Linked DNA regions of Homo sapiens. The protein of the gene in region 4 interacts with the protein of the main gene of each other region in a pairwise test. Each region holds a gene or a part of one and is shown on either strand. Other genes may lie near its edges.

What was found.
Region 1: the proteins of GRIP1 (region 4) and MFAP3 interact in binary tests that used the Homo sapiens proteins (3 or more experiments, as listed by UniProt).
Region 2: the proteins of GRIP1 (region 4) and EEPD1 interact in binary tests that used the Homo sapiens proteins (3 or more experiments, as listed by UniProt).
Region 3: the proteins of GRIP1 (region 4) and PSMB9 interact in binary tests that used the Homo sapiens proteins (3 or more experiments, as listed by UniProt).

Annotation. Positions count from the first base shown.
Region 1 is NC_000005.10:154,048,455-154,055,966, forward strand, and holds part of MFAP3 (microfibril-associated glycoprotein 3 isoform 1 precursor), read left to right. Parts: intron 1-1,102; 5' UTR 1,103-1,268; coding exon 1,269-1,563; intron 1,564-4,465; coding exon 4,466-5,259; 3' UTR 5,260-7,512. UniProt on the Homo sapiens protein: Component of the elastin-associated microfibrils.
Region 2 is NC_000007.14:36,148,632-36,156,331, reverse strand, and holds the start of EEPD1 (endonuclease/exonuclease/phosphatase family domain-containing protein 1), read right to left. Parts: upstream 3,079-7,700; 5' UTR 2,658-3,078; intron 2,200-2,657; 5' UTR 2,008-2,199; coding exon 1,130-2,007; intron 1-1,129.
Region 3 is NC_000006.12:32,849,077-32,857,191, reverse strand, and holds the start of PSMB9 (proteasome subunit beta type-9 precursor), read right to left. Parts: upstream 3,001-8,115; 5' UTR 2,963-3,000; coding exon 2,903-2,962; intron 1,055-2,902; coding exon 987-1,054; intron 1-986. Other genes in the region: TAP1 (antigen peptide transporter 1), read left to right, coding at 3,556-4,153, 4,690-4,804, 4,953-5,083, 6,043-6,248, 6,675-6,872, 8,074-8,115. UniProt on the Homo sapiens protein: The proteasome is a multicatalytic proteinase complex which is characterized by its ability to cleave peptides with Arg, Phe, Tyr, Leu, and Glu adjacent to the leaving group at neutral or slightly basic pH.
Region 4 is NC_000012.12:66,458,919-66,466,430, forward strand, and holds part of GRIP1 (glutamate receptor-interacting protein 1), read right to left. Parts: intron 6,505-7,512; coding exon 6,357-6,504; intron 4,176-6,356; coding exon 4,006-4,175; intron 1-4,005. UniProt on the Homo sapiens protein: May play a role as a localized scaffold for the assembly of a multiprotein signaling complex and as mediator of the trafficking of its binding partners at specific subcellular location in neurons.

The DNA.
Region 1 (7,512 bases), on a different chromosome or scaffold from region 4:
TTATGTTCTGTGATCAAGCAGCCTTCATATAAATATAAAGGAGAGTAAATGTCATTTCCAAAACTAATTATCTTGGTGCTTTATAAGACATAAAGCTAGGCATTTCATCCCATATTTTATAGAAATAAAAGTTGAATTTTTTCTTTGAGAGTTGGTGGCTTAAAGGGGGAGTCAAATTACCAGGAAGGTGATCATAAATACATAGACTTTTGGACTAGGATGTTATTTTGCCTTTTATTCAAGATATTTTGCTCTTCTTTTAAATGTGTCTAACAATCTGTCCCTGTAGTTTTATATTTGCATTTCTACTAACTAGACACTTAAGATGTCAGTTCCTCCCTTAGCTAGTTTACAGAGTTTGAGCTAGAAATTTGGTATGCTTACAAACTATTAAATACACTGTACTTTGTCTCTTCGTATTGGAGAAACTATTAAAAGAAAATTCTGTTGTCTAATGTTCTTGCCCATGAAGGAGGTTCCATAGCTTTAGAAGTCAATAACTCTATTTATGTGTATGCAGTAAGTGCAGCTTTCTTTCCAGTGTTAAAACAACCCACCTCAGGTGTCCCTGCATTATTTATATGTAACATATCTTCATACTTGAATTACTCAAATTTTGAGCTCCATGGTTATGATTATGATATGCCAGTTGATTTACATTATAACAACAGATGGTAATGGTGCAGGTTGAAATAAAAGATCATTAAGATAAATATTTTAGCCTTCATTGGCTCCCTGTTGCATAAAATTTGTCAGAATGAAATAGAATCATGGCATTTCAGAATTGGAAGAGTCCTTAGAGATTATCTCATCCAGTCCCTTATTTGACAGAGGAGAAAACAGAAACCCAGAGAGAATGCTGCTTGCCAAGGTCGTACAGCTAGTTAGTGGCAAAGCTAGGACCAAAATCTAGGTCTGCTATTTACCAATTCATTGCTTTTTCTGCTGTCTCTGTGTGAGATTTTTAGGTACTGTTCCATCTAATTACTCCCCAATGTCAGCACCAATTATTCTAATTAACATCTATTCATTCTGGAACATACGCACTTTCACCCCATTATGAATCTCAGTTGGTTAAACTTTGTATCTGGCTTTCTTTTAGGTTCTCTACTCACATCTTTTAATCTTGAAGACTAGAAAATATAACTGGATCTACCACTTGTTTGGAAAATTTCTCTACCAAGCAATAAATTACCCGCTGTGCTTTTGTTGTAGTGTAGAAGTTTTTGAGTTCTCCAAATCTAAACAAGATTTTGTCCCATTTTCCCATGAAGCTACATTGTTGCTTATTCACTTTAGTGGCAAGTATTATTGTGCCAGCTGCTTTTGTTTTGGAAGATGTGGACTTCGACCAAATGGTTTCACTGGAAGCAAATCGTAGTTCTTACAATGCATCCTTTCCCTCAAGCTTTGAACTCTCAGCAAGTTCCCACTCGGATGATGATGTCATCATAGCCAAAGAGGGAACTAGCGTTTCAATTGAGTGTCTTCTCACAGCCAGTCACTATGAAGATGTCCATTGGCACAATTCAAAAGGACAGCAACTGGATGGCAGAAGCAGAGGTAATTGGTCAGGGTATAATTAATCAAGGTTACTCATTTCCTGTTCTGTCTTCTTATTTTTTAACACGTTAAACAAAAAGTCTCAAAGATAAGGTGCCAAGGTGAATAGTTTAAAACATTTGAAAGGTCTGGAGTGTTGTACCTATCAGAAAATGCAAAGTAATTATAATTGTTTAACCAGAAGAAGAAAAAAAAGAATCATTCTAAATTTAAAAGATGTTCACATGATGACAATGAGCTATTTTCTCTCCTGATCAGTTGGTTTTCTTCTTCATTGAAGGTAGAGTAAATCAGGGCTGCTGCATACAGCTGTACAGGTGGTATACAACACAACTCTGGGAGCACCCTTCACCTAGACTACTATGTCAGTAGTACAGTGTGGTGGCCCTGTGTGAATACATCCAGAAGGTTTTTGGCTAGACTTAAGAAAATTTGTTATAAATAAAAAAGTTTTGCTCTGAAATTAGTTACTATAAACTTTAGAGGAAATCCAGGACATTTTTGAAAATGAGTATCAATCTGTGCATAAAACTTTGACGTCAGGTCTCAGAGAATTAGAAGGGCACTATGGAACTTGTAAGCCCTTCCAGCTCTTTTTTTTTTTTTTTTTTTTTTGTATTCTATACCTTAATTTACTGGAAATGAGAAATTTTTTTTTGCATTTTTTGTTTATGTCTTAAAAATCACATAAACATAGTGTGTTCAAGGTCTACTTTTTGACAGATTTTTATTTAATTTTCCTATTCATGGATCTGTGAATATATCTTAATCCAGACTACTCCTAACCAGTGTTCTGTTATAAAGATCTTTTTGATGAGTACTTGAGTTATAATGGACCTCAAAAAGAAATCACCATGAAAAGCCAAAGGGATGAAGCTTAAATTCTAAGATCCTCACAAGCTACACTTTCAGAAATTTTTTTGTTAGGAAGATAGTGTAGCCTTCTGAAATAGAAAAGGATATTGGTTATTCATATTAGGCTGGAAAACACAAAAGGAGACAGGTGATACTTCCTTCAGACATATGCACTATTTTAATCTATAGACTGAGTGACTAGTCACCAAGGGATTGAAGAGTTTGAATTGTTAGGGTATTTTTAATCAGCATGTTTAAAATACATAACTATTGAATTAGAGTGATACCTGGAATGTGTACTTTGAACATGATTTGGGGTTCCATATTTGAACCCACTGAACCAGACTCCTATCTTCTCTGGGCTCTACGATATCCTGACCAAACACCTCTGAGATCTGAATTATTCATTCAGTGTCATCACTGTAGACTGACTGCATAAACAAAGCCTTAGGTTAAAACAAGACCAGCCAAGTGGAATGGCAGTTTTATTTTTCTATTTTGCCTTTACTTTGAAAACCACTAACATCTATCATTGATGCTTTCAGCAGCAGCTCTGGAAAATTGTATTAAATTTTATGAATCTCAAGTGAGAGGAGTTTAAAGAGCATGTCAGTCTAGTATAAGGTTCATAAATCTTGAGCTATTATCAGCAAGTGAGCTAGAGAGTTTAGATTGTGGTTGTAGTGCAATGGTTGATGAATGGAGTCTTTGTAGTTCATCATACCTTGGATTCAAGTGGTGTCGTTTTCATAGCTCTAAGTTCATAGAACAGAAGCTTATGGAAAATGGCTATATTCATAACTACATGTTTTCCTCTTTTTGTATTAGTGAAGTGATGGCTTTTAAATATATTAATACCTATAGGATTGAGATAAGTTTGGATGATGATGAAAATGGACAAAATCCAGAGTGCTTACTAATTTATGTGCCACTAAAATAATCCAGAACCATAGAATCTTGGGGATGAAAGAGATTTTGAAGATTGGGCACTCAAGTAATGCTTAACAAGCAGTCCGCTAACCTCCTCTGGGACACCTCCTCTAGTCATTGGAATGCATCCCCACACTGCAGGTTAGCCCATCCTTCCCATCTCTGAATGGCTTTCATAGTTAAAGCACAGAGTGCTTTGGGAATGTATCACAAAAGTAGGAATTATGCAGTCAGAGCCAAGTTATTGAAGGATGTGAATCAAGATGCGTAGTCAATATGCTTTGCTTTTCTTACACTTGTATACTTCTATATACGTGTTCCCTGAATGAAAATACCTTCACGTGTGGAAGAGAGGCAGTATGTTTTAGGTTGAAAATGGAAGCATAGGCATCTTAAGGGCAACTTTATTCTTTTTGCCAAGCTTTTCATTTACCATGACTTGTGAGATGTATTTTTTGGCCTGTGCTTCAGTTACTCTTGCCAGAAAATCAACAAAAGTTTCTTAACAACAACAACAAAAAATTGATATGTGCAAGGCATACCAGATTAGGCAGTTACTTCAACAAATGCATTAAATTGCTAGGATTTTTTAAAATAATTTCTTCTTGTTATATAATTTCACTATGGAAAGTGAGCAAACACAGTTAGAAGAAAATAAAAATTACTCATAAAAATTTAAAATACTGTTATTTTAAACCATTGTTTTATATTTCTGAGACATACCCTCATAGTATATGAAAATGTATTGGTTGCAATGTGATGTAGACGGACACATATGTATAAACTATAAGCTTTTTTTATGATTAGTCATTTAGCATTTTATAGACATACCTGTTTCACAGAAAGGCTTTTGAAGTCTAGCAGTGAAAAGGAAGCTATGTTAATTATTAGTGTCATGAAGGAAGATCTTGATTTCCTTTTAAGATCCAAGCTAATTAAATTCTGACTCTGGACCTCACAGTCTGCCCTTTTTTTACATGATTTAAACAAATGGTAGAATCTAACAAATCAGCTAAGTTAAAGTACTTTGATAAAGAGGTGGAATATGGATAAGGCAGCGGGCATATTTAGTAATCTTTTTGCTATAATTTTTTTTTCATTTCTGTTCAATTATCAGGTGGAAAGTGGTTGGTTTCTGATAACTTCCTAAACATCACCAATGTAGCTTTTGATGACCGTGGGCTCTATACCTGTTTCGTCACCTCTCCAATTCGTGCCTCCTACTCTGTCACCCTACGTGTTATCTTCACCTCGGGAGACATGAGTGTCTATTACATGATTGTTTGCCTGATTGCCTTTACAATCACACTCATCTTGAATGTCACACGGCTGTGCATGATGAGCAGCCATCTTCGCAAGACTGAGAAGGCTATCAATGAGTTCTTTAGAACTGAAGGGGCTGAGAAACTTCAGAAGGCCTTTGAGATTGCAAAACGTATCCCCATCATTACCTCAGCCAAAACTCTGGAGCTCGCCAAAGTCACACAATTTAAGACCATGGAGTTTGCTCGTTATATTGAAGAACTGGCAAGAAGTGTCCCTCTTCCACCTCTTATTCTAAACTGTCGAGCCTTTGTTGAGGAGATGTTTGAGGCTGTGCGAGTGGACGACCCTGATGACCTGGGTGAAAGAATTAAAGAGAGACCTGCCTTGAATGCTCAAGGTGGCATCTATGTCATTAACCCAGAGATGGGACGGAGTAATTCACCAGGAGGAGATTCAGATGATGGCTCTCTGAATGAACAAGGCCAGGAAATAGCAGTTCAGGTTTCTGTCCACCTTCAGTCAGAAACCAAAAGTATTGATACAGAGTCTCAAGGCAGCAGTCATTTCAGTCCACCTGATGATATAGGATCTGCAGAATCTAACTGTAACTACAAAGATGGGGCATATGAAAACTGTCAGCTGTAACCTACAATGCTGTAACCCAGTACCTACAAAATCAGCTCGCTCTCAGAAAAGGAACCTGTTTCTTAGAAGAAGTAACATTTTTGCCAAAAGATGACTGGGGTTTTCCGTTTGTTAATATTAAGCACATCAGAACGTGAATTGCCAAAGTCTTCATTAGAAGGCAGCATTTTTCCTCTCTGATACTTTTCAGTCATTTTCCTTAGAGCTTTATTAAATTATGCATGCTAAGATTTAAAGGAGCCCCAGATAAACATGATGGGGAAAAGCACTGAACTAAGAGTCCCATGGTTTCTCTTCTGGTCACAGTTCTTCCATTGGTTGGATCTGATACTTATCTTGGGACTTCAGTTTTTCCGTCAATAAGATGAGGGATTAGGTGAGATCTGAAGTTGTTTCTAGCTCTATAGCTTCTTAACCCATCACCTTTAAATTACCAGAATCTTCACTCATCTCTAAGTAAACCTTTCCCGGGACTTTTACTCGCTTCTTTTGGAAAGGATTAAGCTGAGATCTAAATTTCCACACCAATGTCATAATGCACAGAGGTTTTTGAAAAACATCTGAGTGTTTTTCAGATGTTTTGCCATGTGGAGCATATAATGATATGTGCAAGATTGAATCTTTTCAATGTAGCACATGTCTGTAGGGTTATACAGATGTCAGAGAGCTAACTGCTCTGTAAACTACTTTCCATGAGTAAATTGGTCCTTGGTGGGGGTGTATCATATTTTTAACTTACTGAGATATCATTTTAGTTCATTGAGGTTGGCAGGGATTGCCTAACTGATCTTCCAAAGTGAGCAGTTTATTTCTAAGGTATAACGTCTTTGATGCTTTTAGAATAAGAACAGTGTCAAATCATCTGTCTTCTGGAAAATCATGGATTTTCATATTTCTGTTAACAGAATTTCTCAGGCTTTCCCTTTTTAAAAGTATTGGACTCTACAAATAGGTTCTATATTTGGGATCTCATCCTAGGAGAAAACCCAAAACTGGATTCCTCTTAAGACCTCTGTCAACCCTCCTGCCCTTTGTGGTCTTAGGTATGGTGCTATAGGTTGCATGCGTCTTTATCTTGTTTGTTTGGTTAATATTTTGTTGTTGAGGTTTTTATTTTTGTTTACTTCAGATACATAATTCTGAGCTATGGCTGCTTTTGTAGCCTTTCCAAGAAGCACTAACCTGAAATAAGATTAGATAATTGTGAGGGTGTGTTACTATATTAAAATACACACACAACTGATCTAGACATCAAGAGGAAGAAAAATGATGGATGATGCCACCTGCTTCAACTGTATATAATAAACACTTATGATGACATTTCTTGCCTGGCTGAGATCTGATATAATGGAATTGTAAATACTCTTCAGAACAATTTCTTCAGCTACAGGAAGCGTGGTGCCATATAATTTTAAGAACTTGGCAGTGGAGCTCCATTTGGGGCTTCACGTTTCTTCATATGACTTCTGATTATTGAAGCATTACTTCAGCTAGAGGCTCCTGAGGGAAATGTTCAGAGGAGGTTTTATCAGGATTTTAATTTAAGGTTTCAAACAGGGGAAGACAGGAAATTCAAAGCGTGACGGGATAAAACTCATGCCTCCCTTTGTCCAGGCTTATCAGAAGTAATACATCTGCTCTGAATAGCATGAATGAATCAATGTGCAGTTTTATCAGATGGCATCATGGATAAAGATGATAATGCTGCCTTTTCTGTCTCTCAGGCTGTTTCCATGGAAACCTCTAGAGCCAAATAAAAGCTAACCAATCATTTAGCCAAAGCTTGCCTTGGCTCATAGACTGGTATTTCTTTAAGGAAAATTGTTTTTATATATTTGACTATAAGAGCAAAGGCTCTTGAACATATCCTAGATTATGGAACACTTTTTCCCTTCCCTTTTCTCTGGAAAAATTAAATTTTTTTTCTGTCCACTGAGACTGGAGTGCAGTGGCAAGATCATAGCTCACTGCAGCCTCCAACTCCTGGGGTCAAGCGATCGTCCTGCTTCAGCCTCCCAAGCAGCTAGGACTACAGGTGTGCACCACCTTTCCTGGCTAATTTTTTTTTATTTTTTGTAGAGATGGGGGTCTCACTTTGTTGCCCAGGCTGACCTTGTACTTGTGGCTTCAAATGATCCTCCTGCCTTACCTCCCAAAGTGTTGAGATTACAGGCATGAGCCACTGTGCCTGGCCAAAAAACATTTTAAATCCCTTGTCTGGGGGTCAGTCCTCTAAACATCCCTCAGATTTCA
Region 2 (7,700 bases), on a different chromosome or scaffold from region 4:
CTCTCTCAGTGATGAGAGCATGCCACTGGGTCAGTGCCAAGGAAACGTTGTGACCTGCTTTTCTCCTCACTAATTTTCCTGGTGATCTGCCATCATGCACTGTGATTTCCCGCTGAGAGTTCACTTCGTGTCACCAAACTGCTGCCCCCCCGCCGCCAGCCTCACCAACAACTCAGTGCAAAGGAAATCAACGAGTAGCCACAAACACTGCACCCCTGGTGGGTGGCAGGGCAAAACGCCTCAAGTCCAGGATCACAGCTCTTATGACCTGGAAGGGACCATCACAAATATTTCTTTCTTTCCCACACCTGATTACATTATACAGTTTGCTATTTTACTAACAGCAGGAGTTACTGCCAAAATAATATTGTTTTTGTTTATGACGAGGCTAACAGAAATTCCTACAGAGAGCAGTATTGTGAATAACATAAACGCTCTGTGGTAACGGCCTATCCTACTGGACTCTTTTCTTTGGTTTAAATGGGGAAAATCCGGCCAATTTTCACACACACACGTCAGCTTGCTTTTTTCTGGCTATGGCACAGAAAAGGTTACACACATTTTGGGCTACAATTTTAGGGCTGAAAACCAACTCCAGGTTAAATAAGGAAAAAGAATGGAGAGTGATTCATTCATAGCATTTTGGTAAATATAGACACTTGTATGTGTTTGCAAATACTTGGCCTTTAAGATGATTTTGTGTGCACAAATAGGCATATTTGATGGAACAAATATGATTTTCCCTCCCATTAATAAACAAAATCCAATGAGCTCTTTCTCACATGCGAAACTGCACCAGTTCCCATGCTCTGAGTGCCTGACTTGGTGTAGACCCAGCATCCTCCAAAGCAGTAACAAAAACACAACCTCTGCTTACCCCAAAATTATGAATCAGTCTCAGATATCTCACACTCAAGACATGGGTCACAAGCCCAGCTGTATTCAGAAAATTCTGGAGCAGAAGGACAGCCCATTCTCAGGTGACGGTATTGGCTGAGGCTTCAAGAACATTGATTAAAAACTCTTGCACCCTCCCTACCCGCAAAAGAATCCATTCATTTGCATCCATAGATGAGGTCACGCACAAGTTGCCTTCACACCCAACACCCATGGTGGTTCCTGTCCTCACCTGTTTTCCAGGAGTGTCATGCACACCACCTCTCGCACCCCGGGGTTGTTGGCCTTCTCCACGGAACAGCCCTGCAAGTTCCAGGTGGCCAGCCTCAGCACAGGCCTCCCATCCCTTGTGCCTCCAAAGGCCTCCACGGACGGCCGAGTGGAGATAATCTGGGTGGGCCCCCCTGGCGGCAGGTCCAGGTCCTCACTCTGCAGGCTCAGGGAAGTGGGGCTCGGGTGAGGCTTGGCGGTGAAGGTCAGTCCCCCGTTCGTGTGGGTGGATGGGGGCCTGGACCTCTCAGCAAACACCTGGTGCCGGATCCTGTCCAGGAAGGCGGCATTGATACCATCCATCCTCACTAGGTCCTCAACGCTGCGAAAGGGCCCATGCTCACGGCGGAAGTCCACGATGCTGAGGGCCATTTTCTCCGAGAGGCCTCGCACGCTCATGAGCTGGGCCGGGGTGGCTGTGTTGATGTTAACACGTGGGGTGAGGGGCACAGCTGTGGCCAGGTGGTGAGGCTGCTGCTCCGCTAGCAGGTCCCGCCGCAGGGAACTGGGAGAGTGCTGCGCTGAGCTGCCCTTGCTGCTCACACAGATCTCAAACTTGACCTGCTCCAGCTTGGTGGCGCCTACACCACTGACCAATGCCAGGTCCTCCACCTTCTTGAAGCCACCGATATACTCTCGGTACTCCACGATGCTGCGTGCCACGGCACGCGTCACCCCAGGCAGGGTCATCAGCTCCTCCTCCGTGGCAGTGTTGATGTTGAGCCGCTCCTGATTCACTAGAATGTTGCTGAAGTTACAGGCTGCGCTGAACTTGCGGCTATGGGACAGGTCCGAGGGGTCCCTGGGGATGGAGCGGTGGCAGCCCAGGGTGCTCCCCATGGTCCGCCAGGATCAGGCTCCCGGGAAGGCCGCACCACTGCAGAAGAGCTCTCTGGCTAGGGAGGAAGCCCAGTAGGCCGTACAAGCACAGAAAAACGGAAGGTGCAGGATTCAGGGACTGAAGAGGTTACTATAGACAAACACCGAATCTTCCATGCCTGGCGTGTCCAAAATTACCTTTCACTTGGCCGCCTAGAAAATAAATCAATAAACATAGAAACCCATTGAATTAAGAAATTTGCATTAGCACCCCCTACCTAGTGCTAGAGTTAGTAACCAGGAGTCGGGGACTGGTGGCTGCCCGTGAACCCCTAAAAACGCAGGCACAATGAGGCTAGGCCCATGTGGATTCTCCTCTAGGGACGTCCGGGTTTTATCACACTGGAGTCCAAAAAGGCTACGAGCCGCTTCTCTTGGGAAGAGACCTATCCCCATCAGCCTCATGCCTCTCCTCCAGGCCTCTCTCAACTCTGACACTTGGGTCACCCACACTTGGGCTCGCGCAGACGGGGTGGCCACTCCACCTCCCCCACGCTCCGCATCTGACACAGCGCTACCTGCAACCTGGGAAGTCCGTGCTCCCCGGAGCGGGCACTGAGAAGGGGCTTATCGACCCCCCACCCGACCTGCCGCGGGTCCCCGCGCCCCACCTCTCGGCCGCTCTGCGGGGCGCCGGTTCCTCTTCCACCTGCGGCTCGGAAGCCTGAGCCCAGCCCGGGACAGCACGGGCCCCCTGCCTCCAGCCTAGGCGTCCGCGCGGGTGTGGGTCACTGGTCAGGCCCTGGAAGCCGACTACGCCGCTTCGGTCTGCGTGTCCCGGCTCTTTCTATGGGAGAAACTTAGCATCGCTCTCCCAGAGTGAATAGAAGCCGCAGGGCTGCTCGGAGGCGGCGGCAGCGGCGGCGAAACCCGCCGCCGAGGCTGCACCGGGGCTTGCGGCGGCGCCGCCGCAGTTGCGTTTACCCCGGCAAAAAGTCCTGCGCCCAACTCGGGCGGGGATCCGCCAGAGCCAGTCCAGACCCAGCACCAGCCGCACGGCTCCCGCTCGCAGTCGGTGTCAAAGCCAAAGTCCCGGCCGCGCCGCGCCGCGCCGCTCGCGCCTCCGCAGGCACCGCGGCCACGCCTCCTCCGCGCGGCAACTCCTCCCCGGGACTCCCGAGGGCACGTGGGGGAGGGGCCCTGGCGCGGGGCGAGGCCTGGCACCAGTGGGTGGAGAGAGGAACCCGAGAGCGCAAGGGCGGGCCTGGAGTGGGAGAGGCGGGGCCATGGAAGAGGGGGCGGCATCAAGGCTCAAGAGGGTGGAGAACGAACCAGAGAGCGCGAGGGGAGGCCCTGGCGTGCGAGAGGAGGAGCCATGGGTGTGGGGGCGTGGCCTGGCACAAATGGGTGGAGAGCAGAACCCTGGAGCGCGTGGGGCGGGCCTGGAGTGCGAGAGGCGGGGTCATAGAGTGTGGGAGCGGGGCCAGGGCGCGATGGGGTAGGAAAAGCGGGGGCGGGGCCATGAGCGCGGGGGTAGGCCCCGGGAGCGCAGAGGCGGGACTTAGGGGGCTTAAGGGGCGGAGCCGGCGCCGTGCCGGCGAGGGCGGGTCACAGGGAGGCTGTCCTAAGTCAGCTGCCCCCGGACCATGGTTGCCGCCCGGGGCCTAGGACTGGTTGTGCCTGGTAGAGGCTGTTTAGGATTGCCCGAGGCGAGATCTGCTCAGCTGCTTTTCGTCTGTCTTTGAGGTGTGGGGATGAAGGCCGGGGCAGTCCCTGAGAGTGCATCGCTGTAGGTCCAGGGTCTCACGGAATTTTGCAGAACGTTCCAGAGGAGACTGAATGGGATCGTCTTAATTTCTGTCCCCACTTTCGGCCTTTTCTTTTCTTCCACCAGTGTATTACCTTTGCTCCGCTCAGAGAGATGTCCTCTAATAACGCCAGCGACGCATTGTGCTCCTAGCAGAGGGCACGCACCACCCTCCTGTGTGTTCGCATAGGTCAAATACAGGTTTGCTCCTTTGCACATTTAGCGCTGTGAGTAAACAAGGATAAGTTTTTGTAATATTAAGTCTAATCATTACGAAGGAGGGAAATGGGGGCTGCTTCCCAAAACCCAGAAGAGTTTTTGCATCACACTGCTAAATGACAATTTGGTTAAAGATTAAAGAGCCCTCTGCATTATAGTGGATACCTAGAGCTAGAGTATTCGATTAAGCAAATCATGCGGTGATATCGTTGAATACTTTGACCCTGGACGTTTAGTGTTCTCTGAAGTTTCATCCCCAACCAATGTGACCAGTGCATCTGGTTTCAATTCCAAGGACTGGGTCAGCAAAAATAGTACCTCTCACAGGCGGAAGGTACTTTGGTTGTAAAATTAGCGGCAGCCCAAGTTTGGAAAATGCTACTGCCTTTCTGAGGCACATTCCCCTGCTATGTATATTGGTCAGAAAACCAAGTCAAACTAGCTTAGACCAAAAAAAAAAAAAAAAAGGTCGGGGGGAAATTTTTGGTTCCTTGTTGAAAAGTTAAGGTAAGGAATCTTACCTCAAGTCTGGTTGCATCCGACCCAAGTGATGATGGGGTCATTAGGACATGGCAGGACTGCCTCCATCTCTGGCTCCACGGTTCTCTTTATTGGCTTTATTTTTAGGCAAGCTATTTGCACTTGATCGCAAAAATGCCTTGCTACCTACCATCATCTCCCACCCAAACACTGGGCTACATTATGCCACGCACTGAAATCCTGGTGCGGTAAGGAAAAAACAGTTTAAGACAAGCAGGAAAACAGAGAAAACTCTTCGTTGAGCAGAATGCCTTGATGCGCAACGTGGCTGTGGAAGCACAGCCGTGGAGCGTGGCTACTTGGGCTGGAAGCAGAGAAAACATATTTTATCATACAAACCAGGACACTCTGGAGGTGAAGAGAGGACTCTATTAATAATATCCTAGAACAACAGAAATAATCTGGTTTTATTCCCCATAAACCTAGCAAATGCTCCCCTTGGTATAAATGAAACCAAGCGTTGGCCAAACCAAAGTGCATTTAAAAACACACATACATACACCCCACAAAAACATGCAATGAGATGGTTAACTTTAAAACGACTGATTGTATCCAATGTTGGTGAGGACGCAGAGCAATTGAAATGGTCATACATTGCTGGTGGAGGTGTAAGATGGCACCACTACTTTGGAAATCAGTTTGGAAGTTTCCTAAGAAGTTAAACGTATACTTACCATATGACTCAACCAATCTACTTATAGGTATTTACCAAAGAAAAAGGAAAACATGAAACCCAGAGACTTGAATGTGGATGTTCATAGGAGCTTTGTTTGTTATAGCCAAACACACACACACACACACACCCACACACACACACACACACACACACACACACAAAGCAAAACAACAAGAAACTCAAATCCATCAGTGGATGAATGAATAAATTGTAGTATATCCATACAATGGAATGCTACTGAGCAATAAAGACAAACTATTACATGACATTGAAAAGTCTCAAAATCGTTATACTGAGTGAAAGAAGCAAGGCAAAAAAGAACATACTGTATGATTCTATTTATATAAAACACCAGAAAATACAAACTGACATACATATAGAGAAAGCAGATCAGTGGTTACCTGGGGATGATGGGGAGGGAGGAATGGATTTTAAAGGGCACAAAGAAACTTTGGGGGCTGATGGCAATGTAGTTTGAGAGGTGATAGTTTCATGGGCATATGAATGTCAAAACTGACAGAATCGTATACTTTAAATATGTGCATTTGGGTGTACTTCAGTGACAACAGCTTTGGAAAAATCTTCAAAAAATGAAAAAAAATTTTCTCTGAATCTAAAAAAACATAGGCCTTGTTTTTGGGGAGAGTGGGGTACGTGAGCCTGGGTGGAGATGAAAAGGTTTAGGAGGGGGATGAAGGGGTCCAAGAAGTTGAACAGACAGCTAATAGAAGAGAACATTCCCCAGCTTGGCTTGGGGGCTCAGGAAAGTGGGCGACAGAGGCCTTTAAACTTACGGCTAACAGTCTATTTTATCTGCTGTGCTATTTCATGATGCAATCCTCCCACCCCTACCCCATGCACAGACACTAAATTTTGTAAGATATGTATGTAATGGCCATCAATAAGTTATGTTTAGGAGAGATAAAGTAAGGGAGCTGAATCTTTCTGGGTAAATTAAAGACAGAGAGAAAAAGGGCAGCTAAAATATGAAAGATGGGTGGGAGAAAGAGCCAGGATTCAGTGGAAGCAGAAAATCAGAATACGAGGAGACCCAGGGAAATACCTGACTTTCAAGAATCCTCATTGAGATTGGGAAGTTGGCTCGGGTCCCATTTTACAAGGAATGAGGGTTTTATTTGCATTTTATTATTTAGGGCTCTAGCTGACAACCCAGTTACATGACGATGTCAAAGGGCAGAAATTATATCATTCCAGCCAAATACCACATCCTGTGGCCACTGCCCCTTACGACATAGTTCTCACCTGGGGCCTGGTCAGAGAGGACCAAGGTCATTGGCCTTTTGCTTCTTAGTTAGCAGTTTTAAAGTAAATGGCGATTTAGGGAAAGGGAGAGGTGGCAGATGACAAGAAGGGAGAGCATTTGTGTTTTCAGTTTTACCACCCATAGTGCTAGGCACTGGAAGTACAGTGAGGAGCACACTCCTGACTTCTATTCCCGGAGCTGATGGTGCAGCAGGACTGCAGACATGAAATCAGTAAGACTAGTGCCTGTTGAAATAAGGGAGAGGAAGAGAATATGGATGTGAATTACAAGTAATTTCTGCTAGGGGACTTCCCGGGAAGTGAGGGTCAAGATGAGATTTGAAAGCTGAATAGGGAAATGTTGCCCCAACACACAAGACCTCAGTCCTGGCAAAGCAAGCCCCAATGCCCCAATCAATGAGCTTCAGTCAGGCTATTGACTTGGCACCAACTTGTGTGCAGTGGCCAAGCTGGATGCTGTCCTGAATTATATCAGTGTGACAAGGCAACGTCTCCTTTAGTGTGACCTTAACAGTGGATTTGTCCCTCTTTATCAGAGTAGGCTCCCTGTGTTCCCAAACTCAGGAAACTCCAGGCATTGGCAGCCCACTTGCGCATTCTACATCAGATCCTGCCTCACTGGGAGTTGTGGCAGAGGATGGCCAGACAGACACCATGGACAGACACCATGGAGAGGGGCAATGAACAAAGCTTCATCTTCTACACACAGGTATGTAATTCTGCTTTCTCTTCTGTGCCTGTATATAGACACTCAGCCGGTAATCCCACCACCAGGAGCATTTTCGTATATTACTCTAAAGGATTCCAGTGCTCTGCTGCATAACAGTGTGTGATAGACTGTACATGGGTGCCCAGTGGGTCCAGCCTCCCCTCATTCTCCTCCCTGTGTGACCTCTTTCTACATTCACTCCAGGCTTAGCCATGTGATTTGTGAGAGTAAGGCAAGCAGAGACAAGTACTAGTCCATTCCTTGTGGAATGTTCCCTCCTGGAACGCAGCTGCCATGCTATAGGGAAGTATTAACTCTCCTGTTGTGACTGAGAGGCCACAGGAAGAAGAACTGAGACACCCCAGCCCTCAAGCAGCACCAGGGCCTCTGAGTGTGAGAGAATCCTCTAGGACCTTGCAACCCAGCCTGTCCCCCAGCTGGATGTGCCCACAGGAGTGAGCCCAGCAGAGACCACAAGG
Region 3 (8,115 bases), on a different chromosome or scaffold from region 4:
TCTCACTCTGTCACCCAGGCTGGAGTGCAGTGGATCAATCTTGGGCTCACTGCAAACTTCGCCTCCCTGGTTCAAGTGATTCTCCTGCCTCAGCCTCCCGAATAGCTGGGATTACAGGCACCCACCACCAAGCCCAGCTAATGTTTGTATTTTCAGTAGAGACAAGGTCCCAACATGTTGGCCAGGCTGGTCTCAAACTCCTGACCTCAAATATCTGCCCACCTCGGCATCCCAAAGTGCTGAGATTATAGATGTGAGCCACTGCACCCAACCAGAACTCAGGAATTTTTGAGGGTGATCATTCAATGTCTCTCAAATTTCTTTGACAAGAGAATAGCATGAAGTTTAATGCTTGGATTAAAGCAGGAGGCAAATAATCATCTCAGATATTATTAATCACTGCAGATGTTAATCAAAATTAGGCTTATTTTTCAGGCTTAGATTTTATAACAAAGCAAAAAATGCTAAGGTAAGAAAAATATGCCTCATCAATTTTCTTTGCTATTAACAATCTTGAGAGAGTTATGTTCTATGGAACATAATGTCAGTAATATTGACCTAACCCCATATACTCATTTTGCATGTGAGGAAATTGGTTAGGAGTGGGAGAAGAGACAAAATAGTTCAATATATGGTAAATGAGAAACCAGGTATCTGCTTGACAGAATCATCTTTTTGATCCCTAAGCACAGATGGAAAGAAGACCCTCAAAAATCTATCTCCTGTCCCCCTCTCAGACCCTATTCCTTTACTCATCCCTGTACACTACTGGGACAGGTCACATACACATTCAGACCCCAGATCCTCCTCCACAAATTCAGAGACCCAAGCACCCACCAAATAGCTTATCATAGTGGCTTTTGGGGAAGGTCAACTCCATTCCTCCAAGGCTCCAGTTTGCCAGTCTTTTCATGAATGGGTAAGGAAAGTGTGTATTTGAGGCCATTAGCTTCTTTCCAAATGCATACATCTTCACTTTTACTCACCCTGCAGACACTCGGGAATCAGAACCCATCACAACGCCCCCGTCAAACTCCACTGCCATGATGGTGGTCTGCAGAGACACAGAATATGGAATGTCAGGGCAAGAACAGCCTTGATGCCCTCATGTTAGAGAAGAAGAAACATTCCCAGAGAGGCGAAGTGACTGGCTCAAAGATTACACAGTAACAGGCCAGAGCTGACTGTCAGTACAGGCTTTTTTTCCCTTCATCTTTCCACTTTCTCTATTGCTTCATCCGGCTGCAGGGGAATGCCACAGCCCAGCTGTGATACAACACAGAAAGAACTGTGTCCCTAAGTTCCAACTTGCCTAGTGGAATCCTCTCCACTGTAGAGAGGTGGAGATGAGGCTCCTACAGGTAGAAGTGAAGCAGCTCCGCAAGTGAAAATTATCTCCAACGGAAGGGCTCATAGTATGTGCAGATGTGGTGTAGACCCAACACAGAGTAATTGACTATGATCTTGGGAAACAAGGTCAGTCTATTTTTTTTTTTTTGGTCCACAATCCTCCACTCTCACCCCCCATTTCATCAGAAGTGAGCTCTTCCAATTTACTGAACATTGGAAAAAATCGAGGAGGGCAGTGGTTAGCATGGCCAGGGGCAAGGCAGGAGAGAAGCAGCAAGGAACACATACAGATGGTTGAAAATAAAAGTTTCAGTTATGGAATTTCCGATCAAGAGGTAAATACATATCTCAGCAGCCAGGGAGGTAAATTTGTACCAAGAGATAATTTGACTGAGAAGTTTAAGCTGACTTTTCCAGGTCAAGAAAAGAATCAAGAAGAAGTGAGGGAAGATAAAGCTACATTTATTCTACTATTGAGTTGGAAGGAGCCTTAAAGATCCTCGGTTCAAATGAGGAAACCAAGTCACAGAAAATGCAAACGACTTATGCAAAGTCACACAGAGTTAATAGTAGACCTGGGACTAAAATTCAGGTCTAACTCTTATCCCTTGTTTCCACTTCTACTTCCTACTTGCCACTGCTCATTTGGCAGTGAGGGGAGATTTCCCAAATTATAAGTGGTTTCACTGTGTCTTTCTTACCAGGCCGTAAGTTACTCTGGCCCCAAAGGACGCTCCTCTGAGTATGCTTTCCGACGGACCGACTTATCATGAATAGAGGGTCAAAGAACAGGGTTAACTTCAAGTTAGAGGCTATTCCTCTCTAACAAAGCCGCCCCCAAGCCACGAGTGGTGGCAGTAGTCCAGAGCAGAAGCCAGCCAGCCAGTCTTGGGGCTGCCATCTGCCCCAGGCGCCCATCCTAAGCAAAGTCCCCCCAGTGGGCACATGGGAGTGGGCAGGGAAGACACAGGGAAGGGAGTAAGGCAGCATCTGGGCCAAGGAGAGGCCTTCCTGGGTCAAGCTAGGGAAGGGCATCACTAGTTAACACAGAACGCCCATTATCAGTGCTTGGGCTAAGAGTTGCCCAGTGGCAAGTTTATCAAAAGTCTGTGTGATGAGTTGGTCCTTCTCAATAAGTGCCTATATTTCCTTCTCCCAAGTGCTGTTCTACTTCACCCAGGGCACCATTTCCTCATCTCTTTGCACCATCCCCAACCCCCTTTCTTGATTTAACCAGCCCCCACTGTCCGGGACCAGAGTGAAAGCGAAAGCGCTTTAGAGTAGCTTCCCGTTGACGCTTCCAGCTAAGAGTCAAAGCACCCGCTTTTTCCACCAGCCTCGCGTGCCTGTTCCCTTCACGGACACTCTAGACGACCCCCCTCAGAAAAGAAATACTCTATGCTCATTGCGGGTTGCAAGCGCTGGCTGCTACAGGCGACCTCCCTGCGCTCCCGTTGGTCTCTGCATTCACTTCTCCGCGCGCGCTTCCAGGGTCCCCTGGCCGCTGCATCTCCTCCACCCCTCTGCCAACCCTCAAGCCCAGACCCATTACCCCGGTGTGGACTTCTCCCGCCCGGGGTAAGTCCCCGGTTGGTGCTCCCGCCCGCAGCATCCCTGCAAGGCACCGCTCTCCTCGCCGCCTGGGGCACTGGTTTCCAACCTGGGACAGCGCACAACGCGCAGCCGACAGCCCCGCCCCTTCGCGGCGCCGCCAGGAGGCGCCTGGGTGCTGCGGGGCTGCTTTGCGCGCGGCGCTAACGTGTGTAGGGCAGATCTGCCCCGAGACAAGTGACGAGGCAGCCCCGCCCTGAGGCTGGGGTGGGAAAACTGGTGCAAGTGGAAAGGCAGGAGGCAGGGAGAGGCGAGAAGGGTGTGCGTGATGGAGAAAATTGGGCACCAGGGCTGCTCCCGAGATTCTCAGATCTGATTTCCACGCTTGCTACCAAAATAGTCTGGGCAGGCCACTTTTGGAAGTAGGCGTTATCTAGTGAGCAGGCGGCCGCTTTCGATTTCGCTTTCCCCTAAATGGCTGAGCTTCTCGCCAGCGCAGGATCAGCCTGTTCCTGGGACTTTCCGAGAGCCCCGCCCTCGTTCCCTCCCCCAGCCGCCAGTAGGGGAGGACTCGGCGGTACCCGGAGCTTCAGGCCCCACCGGGGCGCGGAGAGTCCCAGGCCCGGCCGGGACCGGGACGGCGTCCGAGTGCCAATGGCTAGCTCTAGGTGTCCCGCTCCCCGCGGGTGCCGCTGCCTCCCCGGAGCTTCTCTCGCATGGCTGGGGACAGTACTGCTACTTCTCGCCGACTGGGTGCTGCTCCGGACCGCGCTGCCCCGCATATTCTCCCTGCTGGTGCCCACCGCGCTGCCACTGCTCCGGGTCTGGGCGGTGGGCCTGAGCCGCTGGGCCGTGCTCTGGCTGGGGGCCTGCGGGGTCCTCAGGGCAACGGTTGGCTCCAAGAGCGAAAACGCAGGTGCCCAGGGCTGGCTGGCTGCTTTGAAGCCATTAGCTGCGGCACTGGGCTTGGCCCTGCCGGGACTTGCCTTGTTCCGAGAGCTGATCTCATGGGGAGCCCCCGGGTCCGCGGATAGCACCAGGCTACTGCACTGGGGAAGTCACCCTACCGCCTTCGTTGTCAGTTATGCAGCGGCACTGCCCGCAGCAGCCCTGTGGCACAAACTCGGGAGCCTCTGGGTGCCCGGCGGTCAGGGCGGCTCTGGAAACCCTGTGCGTCGGCTTCTAGGCTGCCTGGGCTCGGAGACGCGCCGCCTCTCGCTGTTCCTGGTCCTGGTGGTCCTCTCCTCTCTTGGTAAGGGGAACGCAGGGCAAGAGGGGAGGACACAAGGGGACTGGGACAGGAATCAAAGGTAATTGTCAGTAAGGTAGAGTAGCGTGGGTTCTGGGAAATGTGGAGCAGGAGAAGGACTCCTAGCGTGGGTCTTGGAACACCACTTCGGTGTAGAAGAAACGGCACTGGACTGGCGGGGGCCAGAGGTTCTGGGCTCCATTGCTGACCGGGTCTTGATTCTTTGGGCCACGCCGGAAGCGGGGAAATCCTTTGCTCTGGGGCCGAAGGGCGGGGCATCCTCATCTCTAACAGGAGGCTTTTCTACTTCATGATCTCCAGCCTTCCTAATAAAATCCTGAAAGTTCTGGTAGAGCAACCACAGGGTAGTGAGTTCCAGGGCAGCCTATTTAGGTTCGGGATTGAGACGTCAGTGTTTCCTTTCTGCTGATGCCCTCCAGGATAATGGTGAGGGGGAGGAGGCGTGGTGGGGCCAGTCTGACTGGAACTGACCTACTTAGACTTAATATTTGTGCGTGACCTCTCTTCTCTTTCTCCAGGGGAGATGGCCATTCCATTCTTTACGGGCCGCCTCACTGACTGGATTCTACAAGATGGCTCAGCCGATACCTTCACTCGAAACTTAACTCTCATGTCCATTCTCACCATAGCCAGGTCTGGGGGCTGAAAATGGGGCACCCTGCAAATGAGGGAGTTGGAAGTTGGGGCTGCTGTCCGAAATGCACTTATATGGGGATACCTGGGACCTTCAGTCTGTTCCCTGAACACACCCTGATCCCCTTTTTTTCCGGGTTCTTTATAGTGCAGTGCTGGAGTTCGTGGGTGACGGGATCTATAACAACACCATGGGCCACGTGCACAGCCACTTGCAGGGAGAGGTGTTTGGGGCTGTCCTGCGCCAGGAGACGGAGTTTTTCCAACAGAACCAGACAGGTTTCTCCTGAAACTCTTTCATTATACGCCATGTACTGTTCATATCCTCATACATCTGCTTTGATCTCCCCCCTCCCCGCTCTCTCTCTCTCACACACACATACACACATTGTTCCTTCTCATTCTTGATATACCCTCTCCCTGTCTCTCTCTCTCTGTCTCTGTCTCTCTCTCTCTCTCTCTCACACACACACACACACAATTGTTTTTCTCATTCTTGATATACCTCAGGAGCAAAATATTGTCCTCCTTACCTTAAGAAAAACCTAGAGTTTTCATCTAGCATTTTCTTATAAATCTATTCCTATGTATCCTTAGATAGAAACCATAGAATTTCAAACCTGGAAATTTTGAGCTCATAGAGACCAACTGCCTCATCTGACAGAGAAGGAAACTGAGGCCAAGACCCTAAATGCTGAAACTGCACAGTTACATATGGCTAGAGACACACTTGGGGTTAGAACCCTGGTCTCTTGAGTGCTCCACAGACTTCGGCATGCTTTCTAGCAGCACTAGAAGCTGTACAGTTACATATGGCTAGAGATAGACCTGGGGTTAGAACCCTAGTCCCAGTGAGTGCTCCACAGACTTTGGCATGCTTCCTAGCAGCACCCTCCTCCTCCATCTCTGTTATGTGACCAGTTTAAGCTCTTCCTGCCTGTGTGTATAGCATGGGACATACAGGTTCTCTAGGGAACAGAAAGCTTTCAGGAAAATGGAAATTCACATGTGCATTAATGACTTTATAATTAAAATGAAGGTCAGGCCTTTCCTCTTTAACACTCATCTTCCCTGCACTGAGATTTGCAGACCTCTGGAGAACCCTAACCTTGTTTCCTGCAGCCTCCTTAGAACCCCATGTTGACACCCCTGACCCTGGCATCCTGGCTCATTGTTAGTTCGTCTCATCACTTGGAACCTGTCTGATTCACCTCACTCTCTTCTCCCCAACCCTGCAGGTAACATCATGTCTCGGGTAACAGAGGACACGTCCACCCTGAGTGATTCTCTGAGTGAGAATCTGAGCTTATTTCTGTGGTACCTGGTGCGAGGCCTATGTCTCTTGGGGATCATGCTCTGGGGATCAGTGTCCCTCACCATGGTCACCCTGATCACCCTGCCTCTGCTTTTCCTTCTGCCCAAGAAGGTGGGAAAATGGTACCAGGTATGTTCATGGAGTTGGCCCGCTCTACACAGACCCTCATCTCCCAGACTTGGCAGACTCAGTTCCTCTCACATTGCTTTCAGTCCAGCTTTCCTGGCACCCTTACTGATTCTCCATCTTCATGGAACACCCTGTCCCTGTGGTCCATGTTCCCAGGTTGCTCAACATTAACCTCCATACTCTCTGGGTCTTCTTTTCTAGCTTCTCCCCACAATCTGTCTTTAAGAATTTGATCCCCAACCCGTTCTGAGTCATTTTCCTCTTCCTCGTATTTCTTTAGCATCCAAGGGGCATAGCTGTGTCTCTTTCTCTTTTCTCCTTTTCCTCTGTCTCTTCTCACCTTTAATTTCCAAATAGGTAACTCAGGTATTAGTGTCCCTGATGGTTTGCCAACCCGTGTGACATCTCTTGTCCATGTATCCACAGTTGCTGGAAGTGCAGGTGCGGGAATCTCTGGCAAAGTCCAGCCAGGTGGCCATTGAGGCTCTGTCGGCCATGCCTACAGTTCGAAGCTTTGCCAACGAGGAGGGCGAAGCCCAGAAGTTTAGGGAAAAGCTGCAAGAAATAAAGACACTCAACCAGAAGGAGGCTGTGGCCTATGCAGTCAACTCCTGGACCACTAGTGTGAGCACCTGAAGATGAATACCCATTCCCTTGTCCTTAAGATGCCGTGACTCCATTCCCATTCCTATGACCCTGCTCCCACTCCTCCTTTACTGGGAAATGGTTGGTTCAGTATTTTCGTCCTAGCAACCTGAGGCTCAATGACTCTACTCAGTGTCCCTAGCCCCCTCCCTCTCTTTAAAGATGCTAGGTGGCTTCCTTTCAGTATGGTACATAAAATCCACCCAACCATGTGGATTGGAGAGATGCGTGTCTTCCAGTCCTAGGGCCTTCCTTTGCCTCTCAGGGGAAGTGCAGGGCGCCATAAATTCTTGCACCTGGGACTGCTTCATGCTGGTACCTTGTAGATTTGTTAGTGAGAGTGATGGGAATAGTGGAAGCCAGGGATGAGGGACATCTGTGATGCACTGGAAAGAGAGCTACGCCAGTGATCCGAAGATCCTGGCTTGATGATGCAATTTACTTGTCTTGTGATCATGACAACAAATTTACCTTCTCTGAGACTGTTTCCTCTTTATTTATTTATTTGTTTGTTTGTTTGTTTATTTTTACTTATTATTATTATTTTTGAGCTGGAGTCTCGCTTTGTCGCCCAGGCTGGAGTGCAGTGGCGCGATCTGGGCTCACTGCAAGCTCCGCCTCCCGGGTTCACGCCGTTCTCCCGCCTCAGCCTCCTGAGTAGCTGGGACTACAGGCACCCGCCACCACGCCCGGCTAATTTTTTTTTTTTTTTTGTATTTTTAGTAGAGACGAGGTTTCTCCGTGTTAGCCAGGATGGTCTCAATCTCCTGACCTTGTGATCCGCCCACTTCGGCCTCCCAAAGTGCTGGAATTGCAGGCATGAGCCACTGCGCCCGACTGGTTGTTTCCTCATTTTTCAAAAATGGAGTGATATAACCTTCTTTATAAGGCTCTTCATGTATTAGCTGACATCACATGAATGAAAGCCTTTTGTGAAGAGTAAAATGCTCCCCAGACAAGGTGATAGTGGTGATGGTGGTGAAGATAACTGTGACTTGCATGATGTGCATTGAGTCAGACTCCATGGGGTCTCTGGTTCATTCTCCTGTCTGCCTATTGAGCCTGCCGATGTCACTTAGGAGACAGGGACTTGATATTTCCTTCAGGTTAATGACTGCGGTTCTTTGTGTCCCCTCCAGATTTCTCTACCTCAGTCCCTTTTTTTGTGGTCTCTTTATAGATTTCAGGTATGCTGCTGAAAGTGGGAATCCTCTACATTGGT
Region 4 (7,512 bases):
CTCAGAGAAGTTGTTGCTGATCTCCCTGGCTGAAGGAGCTGCCCTCCCCATGCTATCTCATTACTGTTTTACATTCTTCATGGTACTTATTGCTGTCTGAAACAGCTTTATTTATTTAATATATTTTTAATGTTTGTCTGTCTGTACTAGAATGTGAATTCTATAAGAGTAGGGATATACTTTGCCTGTCTTGCTCACTAAATATATCCTAGCAACTAGAACAGTGCCTGGTATATAATGACTAATACATGAATGAATGAATAAACAAATGCATGAATGAACGGGAATATCAGCCAGAGTGTCCATGTGAACACTGCAGCAGCATTTTCCTTGAGACAAAAGAGTATTTATTGCAGGAGATGTCCCTAATGGATTCTCTCTCACCATCCTCATTCTACTTTGGGTGTACAAGAAGACATTTCAGCAAGACGCAGTTATTACTGTGTTTGGCCAATTTACAACCACCGACACTTTAGCGTACTTTTCACAAAGTACCATCTGTGTTTCAAATGAAGCCAGGGTACGGTGAATGCACTTCGGGATTCTACACCCACCTTTTGACCCGCTTCTTCATTGAGAGCTTTGAAAATTACTGGGCATTTGTTAGGACTGTACAGCACAATTAATAAGTCAATAAGGAAGATATTATTTACCAGCTATTGCTTTCTCAGACTGTGCCAATTGCTACAGGCAGGTTAAAGGTCATACCATTTACCTTGACTTTGAATTACTACTGGGGATTAAATCTTCATACATATAAAATAATTAAGAGACAAAAATGATATAAGATAATGCACAAAACTGTATGCCATGGATGATGAATGCAAAAGGTGTTGAACAAATAATGTAGGCCAGAGAAGAGAGCTGCTGCCTATTTTGAATGTACACTCCAAATGTTTTCTGTTTTACAGTGGTGTACTTGATAGGCAAGTATTTCCAAAGTTTAATAATAAGATGTTACATTTTTGGCATGTCCTGTCATTTTGCAAAGAGCACTTATAGACATTCTCTCATTTAATAAAGCCAATAATTGTAGCCTACTTTCACTGATTACTTATTATATACTAGGCACTGTGCTAGGTGCTTTTTCATGGATTAGCTCAGACAATGTTCACAATATTCCTTTGAGGCAAGTATTATTATGACCCCCATTTTACAGATGAAGCAACTGAGGTATAGAAAAGTTGGGTAACTTGCTTAAGACCCCACGTGGTGGAGTCAGAGGTGAAGCTCTGGACACGTGATCCTAAAGTCCCCGCTTCAACCACCAGACATACCGCCTCTTCCTATGGGTATGTCTAAGTCCCTTGTTATGGATAAGAAAACAACACATTTAAAATATTATGGTTCTTGTATCATTCCATGGTGACGTCACTACTGCAGTCTCAAGAGATATATGGCCACAGAAGTTACTTTTCTTTCTTCTTTCTCTAATTGCAGCCTCTTACTCTGTTCAGGATGTTCGAGAGAGCAGACCACAGTGGTTCCAGGTTGCCCTGGAGCTCTCAAATGGAAGGTCCTCCTGGTACTGAATGTGTCGAGTCTAGTGACTCTGGTCACATTTTCCTTTCCAAAACGTCAGTTTCCTTCAATCCAATTATGTCTCCTGAAAACCCTCAGTGGGAAAAATTTCTAACCTCACTGAAAACTCATTTCTGTCAGCTTCTTTAATGCTGCTATTTATCAGTGAAAGGCATAGCTAATCTCTTATCCCAAGTTGAGATATTCATTTCCACACTGGCCTGAAAACTCTGTGGTATATGCTTTACTGCTAACACAATCTGGAAATTTGGGAAGTGTGTTGAGAGACACACTGTTCAGGCATCAGAGATCTTGAAAAAACAATCAGAACTTTCTTGTGGAGAAAGGGTAAAACTATGTAAAACTCCACTAGTCAAAAATTTGAGAATTGTAAACACAATAATAATTTTTTGTTTGTTTTTCTTCTTTACTATGATTTAATTATGTTTAGGAGCCAAAATTTATTTCCTCTTGGAAATCCAAGTCTGATTTTAATGTGCAATATAACGGAAACACCTGCTTGATAAGAAAGACAGTGAACAACTTTCAGTAAACGTAGACGATGGAGTCAGAAGTGGAAGCTAGAATTACTTAAACTTCCTATCAGTTTCCTATCCCTGCAACACAAACGACATCAGGTTTTCCACAATAAAGGCAAAAAATTTGTGCTTAGTCCATATATTTTAGTGTATAAATTAAACTCAAATTGCCTTGGCAGGTTAAAAAATTTAATATTCCATGAGTTGAAAACACTTGAATTATTTATGAATTGTATATAGGGCCAATTAAAGAAAAATAAAAGAGATTACTAAAGATGCTAACATTTTAAAAGGGTCTGGTATGCATTTCCGATTCGCTGATACCAGAATTTAGCAAGCAAAACCCCATGCTGAGAGAGCACTACACAGTGTACATTCTTATGGCTACTGTGCTCCAAATCCAATGATGACTGCCGATTAATTTAAAGAAACTTAAACAGCTTCAGAAATCTCTCCTCTCTGCCAGAGTGCAGGAAGGGCCCACGGGGCCTCCTGATAGGAATGGTGTGCATCCTTGTGAACGGCACCTTCCTACAGCTGTTTGCATTGCTATTCCAATACTGTGATGCTGATTTTCTTTTCATAACCTGCCTATGCTGCATCATTTCTCTACTCCAATGTGTAAAATTAAAATCTGATAAGGGTAATGTTGTACTAGAGATTTTCATTAGCTTCAGGGCTGTCTAAGCTCCATTTAATTAAAAAGGTTGCATCCAGCTGACTGATTTAGTATGAAAATTATCTGGTCCCTCTTTCCCCCCGCCCCAGACTGTGGAGAAGTGTAGTGCATTTTAAAAGGTGGGAGACACAATACAAATGACCCCCTCATAAGCAAAATTTCAATTTCAGAGAAAACTGCACTGTGTCTAAATATACAGAAATGCATTATCCTCCTTCAGGCCACCCTGACAATACTAGTGAGGCCTCTAATTTCAAGGAGTACAAAGGAATGGTGTTTGCTTTAAGGAATAGGGCAGGAGAGGGAGTCGGAACAAATATCCTACTGGAAAACTTGACTTCATTTGATTTGGGGCTCAAAGACCCCTTTCTCATACCAGGTTTTGCCTAAAGGTGCCTAGGTAGATGGTATAAACACCCAGCAAATGTATCTGTGAATTTCAAGGGAGTCAAAATACAGATACCTTCAGCTGACACTTTCTATTGAATAAATGGAGTTAAATATTCTGATTCTCCCAGACAAGATGTTTGCTCAGACAGGTTGTTCTCTATCCTAAGAAAAAAACTCCACTGGCAAAAGACATAATATATTGTAAACCAAGGCTTCATATAACTGGTTCCCTCTGATTCCTGCCAAATATTTGAAGGTTCTGCTATTAAAATCCACTTTACTTATTTATTTTTAAGTGAGAGCTTTACTATTTGCCTTCATTGGCCTTCATCTAGGCTGGAAATTCAAAATGTATACCAGGAAGTCAAATTATTTTCCTTGTCTGCACATTCAATTTGCACCAAAGACTTTTTTAAGAAAAAAATATCAAATAGCACTAGCCTGAAAATTTTTTCCTCGATGTTAGGGTTTCAAGCAAATTATGTGTGGCTTAGAAAAAAGACTTTGGAAGATGAATTAGAGTAAACAAACATAACCTTGTTTTGAAAAGAAATGATGAGTCTGACCAACATGGTGAAACCCTGTCTCTATTAAAAATACAAAAATTAGCTGGGCATGGTGGCGGTCACCTGTAATCCCAGCTACTCGGGAGGCTGAGGTAGGAGAATGGCTTGAACCCAGGAGGCAGAGGTTGGAGTCAACCGAGATCATGCTACTGCATTCCAGTCTGGGGGACAGAGTGAGACTCCATCTCAAAAAAAAAAAAAAAAAAAAAAGGCAGAATGAGACCCAGTGTCTTTCTGCTGTCTAACTCTGCTAGAGGGAGCAACACTGTGAGGGCCAGAGAAAGAGCTTGATCCAGGTGGACCATCTCACCATGGTCGGGCCCCTTTAGGGCCAGCCGGGTCTGATGATGGGGAAGGATCTCAAGCTTGACCTGGTCAGTGGTGTTGGCCAGGAACTGGGTTGCTTCTGCAAGTGTACAGTACTCCATGCTGGTTCCATCGATGGAGAGGATGTGATCTCCCACATGCAATGCGCCACATCTACGGAAAGGAGAAATACTCGGTAAGAGGCAGTGCCTTCCTCTTTGGAATCTGACTTTCATGTCCTTCATAGTTAAAATTTCACAGTTTTTCATTTACTTAAAATAAAAGAAAAGAAAAGTTTGAGTGTTATAGGAAACACCATCTGCCAAATTTTAAGTACCTTGAATATGAACAAGGAAGTAAAACCTTGTGGAAAATAGAGAAAAATTCAACGAAATGTTTTCTCTTGTCTTTCTTTAAAAAAAAAATCTTATTTTGGAGTGCTTGTGTGGAAAGTTGAGGGAAAGCGAGCAAGAGGAAAGGGAAAAACAGGAAAATGTTTCCCCTGGACTTTTGTCTGTGTTTTTTTGTTCTAGGCTTTTCTATCTATAAACATGAGTGGGTAAATCTTCAGAATCTCAAACATGACTCTCAGAATTGGAATAGGGTCTATTTTATGTGTAAAGAAGAATAACTTGGGGAGATTTCAGTAATACTTCCTTGGAATCCTCACACAAACTCCAAGATCACCAGTTCTTTATTATTATGTTATTCTGGAGTTGAACATGTATTAGTATAAAAGCTCTTGATAATGGTAGAAATTATGCAGGAGTCAAGTGAGTAATAAAACCAGGCCTGCATGGTGAGTCAAGGGGAAAGATGGGGGCAGGGAAGGGGCTAGCTGCTACATCTTGCTGAACTCAAGAGCTGGCTACTGGATGAGTTAAGAAAAGCTAGCGCAGTCGTCAGCATCCCCACATACCAGTCAAGTGAACAGCTCCTTAAACTGGTTACCCCCTGTGGAATGGGAAAAAACAGAGGGAGAAAATTAAAGCATCCTGTGCCATTGAACTGCACAACACCCCTGGATCAATGGCTGTCACTGATAAGGACTGAATGTTGGGTAAGACCACAATGGAGATGTAGACTGACCACTACGGGGGGTTGCTGCAGTTCACTGCACCATGGCTGGAGGTGGAAAGGCAGGTTGAGGGGCACGTGGAGAAGAGGGCTGGAAACATACAGGGGAGACTGGTCATTCAGGTGCAGTATATCTATAAATTCCCAGTGTGAATAGTCTACGTCTCAAGACAAAAGCATTTCAAGTCATATCTTCCAACTAAAAACATAATTCCACATTTTTTGCACTTGGAGTGCTTTAGCTATGGGAGATGAGGTTTTTCTTACCAGGAGCTGTAAAATAATTAATTAGATGGAAAGGTAGTCTTTTTTTATCTTCCCCTTTTACCTTACGAGTATAAAATATTAATTAGAAACATGAAATTTCATTTTTATTGTGGCATTGAAGCGAATGATGTTTTAAGACACCCTCGAAGGTTGTAAAATCCTAAGATTAACATGCTATGAGAGTATAGGACTTTTTAAAAGTATTGTAAAAAATATTTTAAAAAGTATTGTTTTATTTATTTAAGAAACAAAGAAATCAGATTTTATGGTAGCAGGATTTAATTGTCAACAATTCAGGAAAACCCATCACTGCTCTGCATGGGGTTTAAGAAAGATCTACTCAGCTACCCTACATTAAGAACAGGCTAGTGCCCTAGGACACAGTAAGAAAACTTGCTTAGTTGCTTGATTTTTTTTTCTATTGCTAAAGGCCACACCAAACATCTGGATGACGTGAAGTGACATCATGGGGTGGCTGACACATAGGTGAATTTTTAAGCCCTGTAACAGTAACTTGCTTCTGTGTGTGAAACCTGTATAAACTGGCAAGAGAACTGTGTGTGTGTGTGTGTGTATGTGTATATGCATGTGTATATGTGTATTACAAGTGTGTGTACATATGTATGTATATATATTTAAAATTGCACACATGCAATTTTGTAAAGGGGCACTTTCTTTCTTTCTTTCTTTCTTTTTTTTTTTTTGAGATGGAGTTTCACTCTTGTTGCCCAGGCTGGAGTGCAATGGTTCAGCTCACTGCAACCTCTGCCTCGCGAGTTTAAGTGATTCTCATGCCTCAGCCTCCCGAGTAGCTGGGATTACAGGCACCTGCCACCATGACTGGCTAATTTCTTGTATTTTTAGTAGAGATGGGGTTTCACCATGTTGGCCAAGCTGGTCTCGAACTCCTGACCTCAGGTGATTCACCCGCCTCGGCCTCCCAAAGTGTTGGGATTACAGGCGTGAGCCACTGCGCCTGGCGGAAAAGTAGGCACTTTCTACAATACTTACCTGTCTGCAATACTTGCAGATTTGATTTTGTCTATGACAATGACTTGTTTGTTACAGCACATCGAGGTAGTTAGGGCAACCCCAAGGCTGGCACCAGGAGTTTTGGCAACTTCGACTAGTAGTGGCCCGGATGCTGTTGCCACAGAGTCTGTCAAAGAACAAATTTTAGAAAACAAAACAAATAAAACAAATAAGCAAAGAGACAAAAGAAAGAGATGAAGAATATTCAGTTTGGTGTTAGCCTGTTAATTTTATCACTGAAACTTAGATTTCCCTCCATATAATATCCCCACAGCCAATAATAAATTCATAGGGCACCTCTTAACACACCTGTTCCATTCAGCTTGTATTGTGTTAATGTATGTGTAATGTTCATCTCTTCAATGAGATTTTAAGCTTCATGTCACTTGGGATAATATCTTATGTATCTTTATCCCCTCCACAGTGCTTGGCACAATGCCGAGCATATACTAGGTCTCTCAGTAAAGGTTTTTTAAATTAATTACTTAATTCAATAAATATCTTAGCACCTACCAGGAATAAATAGACGGATGGATGAATGAATGGATGAAAGGATGGATATAAAAAAGAAAGGAAGGAAAGAAGAAAGAAAGGAAGGGAGGAAGGGAGGAAGAAAGAAAAGAAGGATGGATGGGTGGATAAATAAAAGAATGACAAGAGGGATGGGAGGATGAATGGATGGGTAGATAGATAATCAGAAGAATGGATGGATGGATGATGTCTCTAGCCAAGTAGTAGGAATGTTACACTAAGTTGAATTTGTAAAGCTTAACTTCATATATGCTTTATTTTTGGCTTGGAACACTCTTTGTTCCTTCAACTCCTTCTAACATTTGCATACTCAATGCCAACATCAATTCCTCGGGAAGCCTAAATTGTAATTTGGTAAGATGCTTTTCACATGTGCTTCTACAGCCTGCTCTATTCCTGCTGTTGTAGCATACATCTCACTGGTTCATAGTGGCCAGTACGGACGACATGCCTGTGTTCCTTGCCAGATTGTAAACATGCTTGAAGGTAGAGACTATGTCTTGTCAATCACAGCATTCTCAGTGCCTAGAATAATGATTAGCACATCAGAGGTATGCCACTAATAGTTGTGGAATGAATGCATGAACAAATGAGAAAGCTCATG